Homo sapiens: one gene and its partner. Changing the gene in region 2 together with the main gene of any one other region gives a genetic interaction. Each region holds a gene or a part of one and is shown on either strand. Other genes may lie near its edges. The genes, in order: KRAS and RNF40.

Region 1 (3,918 bases), on a different chromosome or scaffold from region 2:
ATCCCCATTTCATACTGGGTCTGCCTTAACAGGAAAAGCTATTAGGAGTCTTTATAGTAATTTATCTAATGTGAAAAGGAAATGGCCTTATAATAGTTTCCATTGCCTTGTAATTTTTTTCCATTTTTTTCTTTTTATAGAAAAAATATAATATTTTGGGGAGAGTGACCATGACTAATAGCAGTGGAAAGGAGACAAAACCTTTGTGAACAGTGTAACTTTACATTCATCAGGGATGACAAACTATAGGACATGATGCCTAGAAGAATCATCATCAGGAAGCCCATAAATTTGTGTTCCCTCAATGTTTCAGTAAAAACCAATTAGAAGGTCTCAACTGAAATTAGTAATTAATCCATTTATGTGACTAGATAAAACACAGAATAGGGATGATTCAAAAGCTTCATTAATTTGTTTCACACCAACATTCACAATTGGTAAGAAAAATAAGAAGTAATCAACTGCATGCACCAAAAGCCCCAAGACAGAAATCTTAGGTATTCAGTTTCTTTTTCACAGGCATTGCTAGTTCAAAAACCAAAACTCTGGGAATACTGGCACTTAGAGGAAAAAAAAACTTCCACTGTCATTTTAAAATAAGCATTTAAGGTAAAAGCTAACAGTCTGCATGGAGCAGGAAAAAAATTAGGTAATGCTAAAACAAATGCTAATAATTTAGTGTAATGTACAAAAATTACCACTTGTACTAGTATGCCTTAAGAAAAAAGTACAAATTGTATTTACATAATTACACACTTTGTCTTTGACTTCTTTTTCTTCTTTTTACCATCTTTGCTCATCTTTTCTTTATGTTTTCGAATTTCTCGAACTAATGTATAGAAGGCATCATCAACACCCTGAAATACATAAAAAGTATTAAAATGTGAATATATACGATGGCTTCATGTGTACAGGTAACAAATTTCATTAATGGAAAAAATATTAAGAAAGGATTCTTTATGTTTCTCTTCAGGCAACTGAATATATATTACATATATTAGGACTTTTAGAATTCTTAAATGTCATCCGCATAGGTGTTTTGTCAATATTATAAACAGGAACACTAATTTTCACAAAAGACAAGGATAACCAATGGCACAGAATTTTAAATAAGGTAACGACTTTTTCACAGGAGAACTTAATTTGCTACTATTTTTTCCACATTGGCAAACCTAAGTCATCAAAATCCAAATGCATGTGTGTGTGTGTACACTTAATTGTCCTTATGTTTCTGGACTTTAGATATAAGCCATGCAACTGTAAACTATGTTCATATATCTTCACACACAGTAACAGTATTTGAGCTCCAGTTCTATACTTACGTAAAATCCATTGGATTTAAAAATTTACCAAGAAGTAAACAGTATTCGAACATCCTATTCCAATAATTTATCAACAAGTAAACAGTATCTAAACATATTATTTCAGTTTTCAAATGATATATATTAAGGGATTAGTTTCAATTCATATATTTATCATTAAGAAAAAGGTTTAAAGTGACCCCAACACAGGAGAATACCACTTTAAAAAAAACACTAATACCTCAGATTTGTGGAGAAATTAGCTAAATCATTTGAAAGGTCTTATAGTTTACCAATTTGGAGGAGATTCTTTCTATCCCATAAAGTTTTAATTTCTGTTGTATTCAAAAGCTTGCCATATAAAGCCAAATATCCTGTCTTCAAAGAGTTTAACAGTTAGTCATTGTGACCACCATCTATTTATGATTAAAGCAAGGTTATTTAAATTTAATGGCTAAAAGCGATTTTAAGCCATAATACTTTTCAACCTAATAATCTACAGTGTGAAAAATGGCACTCTCAAACTGGTAGTAGATTTTAAACCTGCAGTACTTAAATTATGCAAGATCCATACACAAGTCAATTCTTGTCATGTCTCCAATTAAAAGAAAAATATAAATAAAAGCAAAAAATGAAGAAAAAATATGATTCTCTCTGTATTTTAAAGCCTGTTCAACTGAGTAGTAACTATAAAAAGAAAATCTGTTAACCTCACAATACTTCCAAACCTAGACAGCAGAGGGAGTCTTAGAAACAAATACCCAACACATTAAGTTGTATAAATCAAGCCACTTTAGGAACAATGAAAACTGGGTTTTTACTCATTGTAATCACTTTGTAGGATATTATAAACTGTGTAAATAAATGTATTAAAAAAATTATATGTGTAAAAATATTCAAGTGATATTATCTTGAAATTAATTTAAAATGTTAAGTGGGCGGGGTGCGGTGGCTCAAGCCTGTAATCCCAGCACTTTGGGAGGCCAAGACGGGTGGATCACTTGAGGTGAGGAGTTTCAGACCAGCCTGGCCAACATGGTGAAACCCTGTCTCTACTAAAAATACAAAAATTAGCTGGGTGTGGTAGCAGGTGCCTGTAATCCCAGCTACTCAGGAGGCTGAGGCAGGAGAATTGCTGAACCCGGAGAGGCGAAGTGCATTGCAGTGAGCCGAGATAGCACCACTGCACTCCAGACTGGGTGACAGAGCATGACTCTGTCTCAAAGAAAAAAAAACAAAAAATGTTAAGTGGTATTTCTCCTTTACTGTACTACTAAGATTAACGATATTTCAAAATAAATCTGGAGCATGAACAATGAAAATTAGCTACAGTTCATGAATTTTCCTAATAGATCTATAATTCAAGAAAGCGTGACCAATATTTTAAGAGAGGTAAACATAGAATGGGAATAAGAGGCTAGTCCACATTAAGCAAACAGTAGGATAAAAACCAGCATTATTTATTTGAGCACTAGTGAAAGTCTCCAATAAAGTCCCCAAACTGCACTCACTGATGTTTCCCACTCTCTAATATCATTACTGATACTACACAAACATATGCTTTTGTTTCTCCCACAGGAGAAAGGAAAAGTGGTAAGAAATAATTTATCAGCAATACAATACCATCAAGGTTTGATTACATATATGTATGTGTATGTATCCCTTCAGGCTAAACTCTTTAACACATATAGAGGGGAAAATTTCCAATGATACAATAAAAATTATTCTGTAGCTTGCCAGCACTTGACAATTTACTTGACAGTTTAGAATCATAAACCCTTAGAATGTGATAGAATCTTAAAAGAGGATCTAACTCCCTTACCCTGAATGAATAAATTCCCTCTGATCACATCCTTATGTAATCTACTCCATTTCTACTACTTTTACAATGAAGAAAAATGCCAATGGTACTAAAATGGTAAAGCAGAAAACAATGAAAAACCATGTGATGGACACAGAGAAGACACATTTTATGGTGAAAACACAGAATTTGAAAACATTACTTCCTAAGATTCTGACAAAGATTCTAGGCTTATGTTGCAATGAACTCTCCTCTCTACATCATCTTGTTAAAATTAAGTAATTTTGGCCCAGTGCAGTGGCTCACACCTACAGTCACAGCAATTTGGGAGGCTGAGGCAGGAGAACTGCTTGAGGCCAGGAGTTTGAGACCAGCCTGGGCAACACAGCAAGAACCTGTCTCTATTTTAAAAATAAATAAGTAATAAAAAAAAATTAATTAATTTCAATCGTGAAGGAAATGTCACAACCTACACAGAGCAATGAATTCTTTTTTTCTCATATGAGAACTAATCATTCTCACACATACACATAACATTATCTTTTTCAGGACTAAGAAAAGCTAATTTATATATGTTTATCATTGTCAAATTTTTATTTATGTATTTATTTCCTAAAGGTGGGGTCTCATTACGTTGCCCAGTCTGGTCTTAAACTCCTGGCCTCAAGCAGTCCTCGCGCTGTGGACTCCTAAAGTTCTGGCATTATAAGTGTGAGCCACTGTCCCTGTGCCAAAATTTTTTTATTTTTACTTTTTTTAAGAGATGGAGTCTCTTTCTGTTGCCTAGGCTACAGTGCCATGGCACCATCATAGCTC
Region 2 (3,918 bases):
GTAGGCGGTCTGAGGCCTCTACCACACGAGACACAGCTGCCTTGGAGAACTCCATTCGGCCTTGCAGCTCCAGCTCCACCTCCTCACTGCTGCTGGCACCCAGTGCCACCACAAAAGCCAAGGCCGGCTCACTGAGAGGGGGCCGCAGCTGCATCAGCAAGGGGTCTGGAAGGAATGGACAGACCCTCATGAGGATAAGAGCAGCAGTTACTACCACTCTGTACCAAGTTCCAGACTGAGCCCTTCAATACTCATGGTTCACTTAATCAACACAACCTATAGTGCACTATTATCTCCATCCTGAAAGTGAGACAAATGAAATTCAGGGAGGTAAAGTAATTTCCTCAAAGCTACAGAGTTGCGTATCACATCCTCAGGGAAGCTTCCTGTACTTTACCAATATAATTAGAATCACACGCACATGCATGCACACACAATCATTCCGTTTCAGGAGCCCCAGTACTTTCTGCTTACTATGTTTATAATTTCCTCCCTTATAGCAAGTGCAACACTCATTTCTAGGAAGCGTCAAATACATATTTAATACTCAACCATAATACTGTTTTGAAACAAATGGGTGTCAAAACATGAATTGCTCTATAAACCAAGTTAGTCAGAGTCTAAAGCCTGTGTTTTTGTGCACTGCACTTTACTGCCCAAACATGAAATCCATTTCGTGAGAAGTAGTAAGATAGGCAATTCAGGGGCCCAACACCAAAGTCCCCTCCTCCCCAGGACTTCTCCCAGAACTTAAGCTCCCCAGATCCCAGCACTCTGGTCCTACCTCTCAGCTCTGATGTCCCCGGCTCTGGGAGAGGAGTCCCATCACATGTTGGCCCCTCCTGGGTCCCAGGTGCCTCAGGCGCTGAAGACAGCTCCCCCTGGCTCTCATGGCATCGGAGAAGGGCTTCCACAGTTTCATCCAGCTGGAAGGAGAAAACATCAAAAATGTTATGAATCCCTTAGTGCTTTCCAACATGATACTCCTTTCCTAGCAGGGGAATCTGGGGATTGGCAGCTGAATCAAGGCCTGGTCTTTGAAAGCAGAAGGTATCCACCTGGGCCCAGTAGCGATTGACGATGAGGAGTGTGGCATCATCTGTGGCCTGCCGCTTCTCCAACTTCTCAATTCGTTCTCGGAGTTCATCTTCACAAGCCTGCCGTTGTTCCAGCCGCTCTGCCAGTTTCTTGTTCTTGAACTGTAGTACCTTCAGGTCCATCTCCTCCTACCAAAGGAAACAAAGGGGCCGACGAGAGCGTCAAGCAGGGCCCACAAACCAATCACAGAGAGAGAAAGAGGAGCAGAGCATCTGCAATGCATGGGAGATGGAGGTATTCCCACACTAACCGCTAACAGAATCTAAGGAGGCTCAGACAACACACAGCGAAAGTGTCTTTGTTGTGAGGAGGCTCACGTTGTTTCTGCCTGTCCCCTTGTAAATCCTTAGTCTTTGACAAGTCACACGCCCCCTGGAAACCTGTTTTCCTATCTGTAAAGGGAAGACAGGCGTCGTGTTCTGAGCTTCTTTCTAACCTTTCTTTCAAGGTCCTGTAACGCGGACCTTGCTAAACTTGGGGAAGTGGGTGTAAGATTCCGCACAGTTTGGCCAGAGAACAGAGGGAGGGCTCTGGGAAGTTCTGAGGGTTAAGGCAAGAGCCCACGAACCGTGGAAGAGATGCCTCCAAGACGAATGGGCTCGATAAGAGTCGTGGTGGTCTTCTCCTCACGACTCAGCTTCTTTTCCGGGGGCCCTGAGCCCCCGTCGCCGGCGGCGCGTTTGTTGCCTGGCCCAGACATGGCCGCGGCGGCTGGAGCGATGCAGGGTCCCCTGAGGGGCGTCAAACGGGAGGAGGCGGTACTTCCGTCACCTGCAGAAGACACAGAGCAGAGATGTGGGAACGGCTGGTGTTCCACAGCCCCAAACACCCTCCACCCTGCACACACCTGCTGGATCCCGTCCCCCCCGGCGCCAGAGCCCTCACCAGCAGGAGGGTCAGCCTAGCGCCGCCATCTTGGATTTCACCGGACGTCACTGGGCGTCACTGGACGCCACTGCCCCCCCCCCAACGGTGCGCAGGGCGCAGGCGCCAAAGGCAGCCCCGGATGTGAGGAAACTTCTTTATCTTCTGCTTCTATTGGTTACGCTTGGTCCCGCCACTCGGGTCCTCTGGCTTCTTCCCAAACACCTCCTCTTTCTCTCGGTGATTGGCCAAGAGGCAGTTCCCATAGTAACTGACACCGCGCTCCCACTTCCCAGCCTGGAGGACAGCACCGGCCCTCGTATTAGCAACCTGGAAGAGAGGGCGCCCAGGTGGGCACTCGCAACTTCTCACGTATCTGCGCGTTCTCTTCGCTCCCACTGGCGTGAGCCTGCGCTTTCCGCCTTCCTTCCCTCACAAGCCCCCTTGGCAACCGTCGCCGTTGAGACGGAGGGAGACGCCCCCACGGATTCGCCCCGCCGCGCCTCTCCGCGCGTAGATTGGCCGGAGCGAGGCGAACGGGCCCGGCCTTGGTAGCCGCCGACCGAGCGCTGGCTGTCCTGGAACCTAGGCGGCGGGAGCCCGGGGCGCCTCGCGGCACGGAAGAGCGGCGAGATGCTCAACCGCAAGACCAGCCACTTTTTGGGAATGAGGGTGCAGTCGGAGCTTGAACATCTCTCCGAGCTGCGGCGGGAAGCGGGGAAGGATCGCAGCTCAGTGCATGGGTCGGCCGCGCGGACGCGTGCGAGTGTGCGGACTCAGTGGACGACGGCGGCGGCGGCGAAAGCGGATGAAGACCCCGGAGCCAACTTGTTTCCGGTGAGGGCGGGACAGTCTGGTCTGCTCGTGAATATTTATAAACCGGCTCCCCCGCAGGCGCCACCTGTCATTATGCTTACTAACGTTCGGGACGTCTCCCGGGCTGCTTGGGCGAGGAGAGGCAGGGGTGTGTGACCCCGGTGGTTACTGTGCTCGCGTAGAGCACCTAGGGCCTGCTGAAGCCCTCCCTCGCCCGCGCCTCTCCTTAGTCCTTGAGATGAGATGGCAAGTTACAGCGGCTTCTCCGGCCTGCTGGAGATTCGCTACGGGCCAGGACACCGCAGCTGCCTTCCCCAATTCGCTTTCTTTCCGCAGCCGCCGCTGCCCCGACCCCGGATCTGCATGTGGTGAGTGTGAAGAGACAAAAATTACACTGAATATTTGCGTTCTTTATTGTCTCCCCAACAGTCCTGTCTGTGGCCAGGGCATCCCCATTTTACAGATGAGACTGAGGCCTGGAGATGCAATTACTCCAGGTGACTGGAAGTTGGCTTTCCAGCCTCTCCAGTCCAAAGAGGAGGCAGTGTGAGAAAAAAAGAGCCAAAGACAGAATGTAAATGGAGTCTCATGGCCGCTAAGGAGTATTGTACAGAGGGGGACACTGAGGGCCACAGGGAGTACTTGACCAAGGTCATACAAGGTAGTGGCAGAGCAGAAAAAAGAATTCAAGATTCCTAACCCTAGGCTTTAGAAATGGAGAGGCTCATAAGAGTTCATTTAGGCCCAGAGAGTTAACGATTTGCATAGTCACACAGCAAGCTGGCAAAAGAGCCCAGCTTCACGCCGGTGGCCAACTCCCAGTCTCACGCACTAGCTGTCACAGCCTTGTCATGATAGGTAACGGCCACCAATACTCTTTTTCTTTTACTATAACAGGAAGTACCTGGACGTCCATTCCATGCACCAGCTGGAGAAGACCACCAATGCTGAGATGAGGGAGTAGGGACTGAGGGGGGCGTGGGAAGAGCTCTTGGCAAAGGCTGAGGGGTCAGGTTGGGAAAACATGAGGAATGGCTGACTCCAAAGCATGTGGTGGGTGTAGGGTGATGAAAGGAGGCCCAGTTGTCACTCACTCCTCTCTCCCTCCCAAGGGTGCTGGCTGAGCTGCTGGAGCTAGGG

What was found.
Region 1: changes in RNF40 (region 2) and KRAS are lethal when combined (synthetic lethality), as found in Homo sapiens cells (3 studies listed by BioGRID, with this or other methods).

Annotation. Positions count from the first base shown.
Region 1 is NC_000012.12:25,209,055-25,212,972, forward strand, and holds part of KRAS (GTPase KRas), read right to left. Parts: intron 3,125-3,918; coding exon of another isoform or gene 3,124-3,124; intron 858-3,123; coding exon 741-857; 3' UTR 1-740. UniProt on the Homo sapiens protein: Ras proteins bind GDP/GTP and possess intrinsic GTPase activity. Plays an important role in the regulation of cell proliferation.
Region 2 is NC_000016.10:30,760,426-30,764,343, reverse strand, and holds the start of RNF40 (E3 ubiquitin-protein ligase BRE1B), read right to left. Parts: upstream 2,023-3,918; 5' UTR 1,984-2,022; exon of another isoform or gene 1,946-1,983; intron 1,870-1,945; 5' UTR 1,799-1,869; coding exon 1,667-1,798; intron 1,227-1,666; coding exon 1,059-1,226; intron 927-1,058; coding exon 785-926; intron 166-784; coding exon 1-165. Other genes in the region: CFAP119 (cilia- and flagella-associated protein 119), read left to right, coding at 2,596-2,799, 3,115-3,146, 3,676-3,738, 3,891-3,918.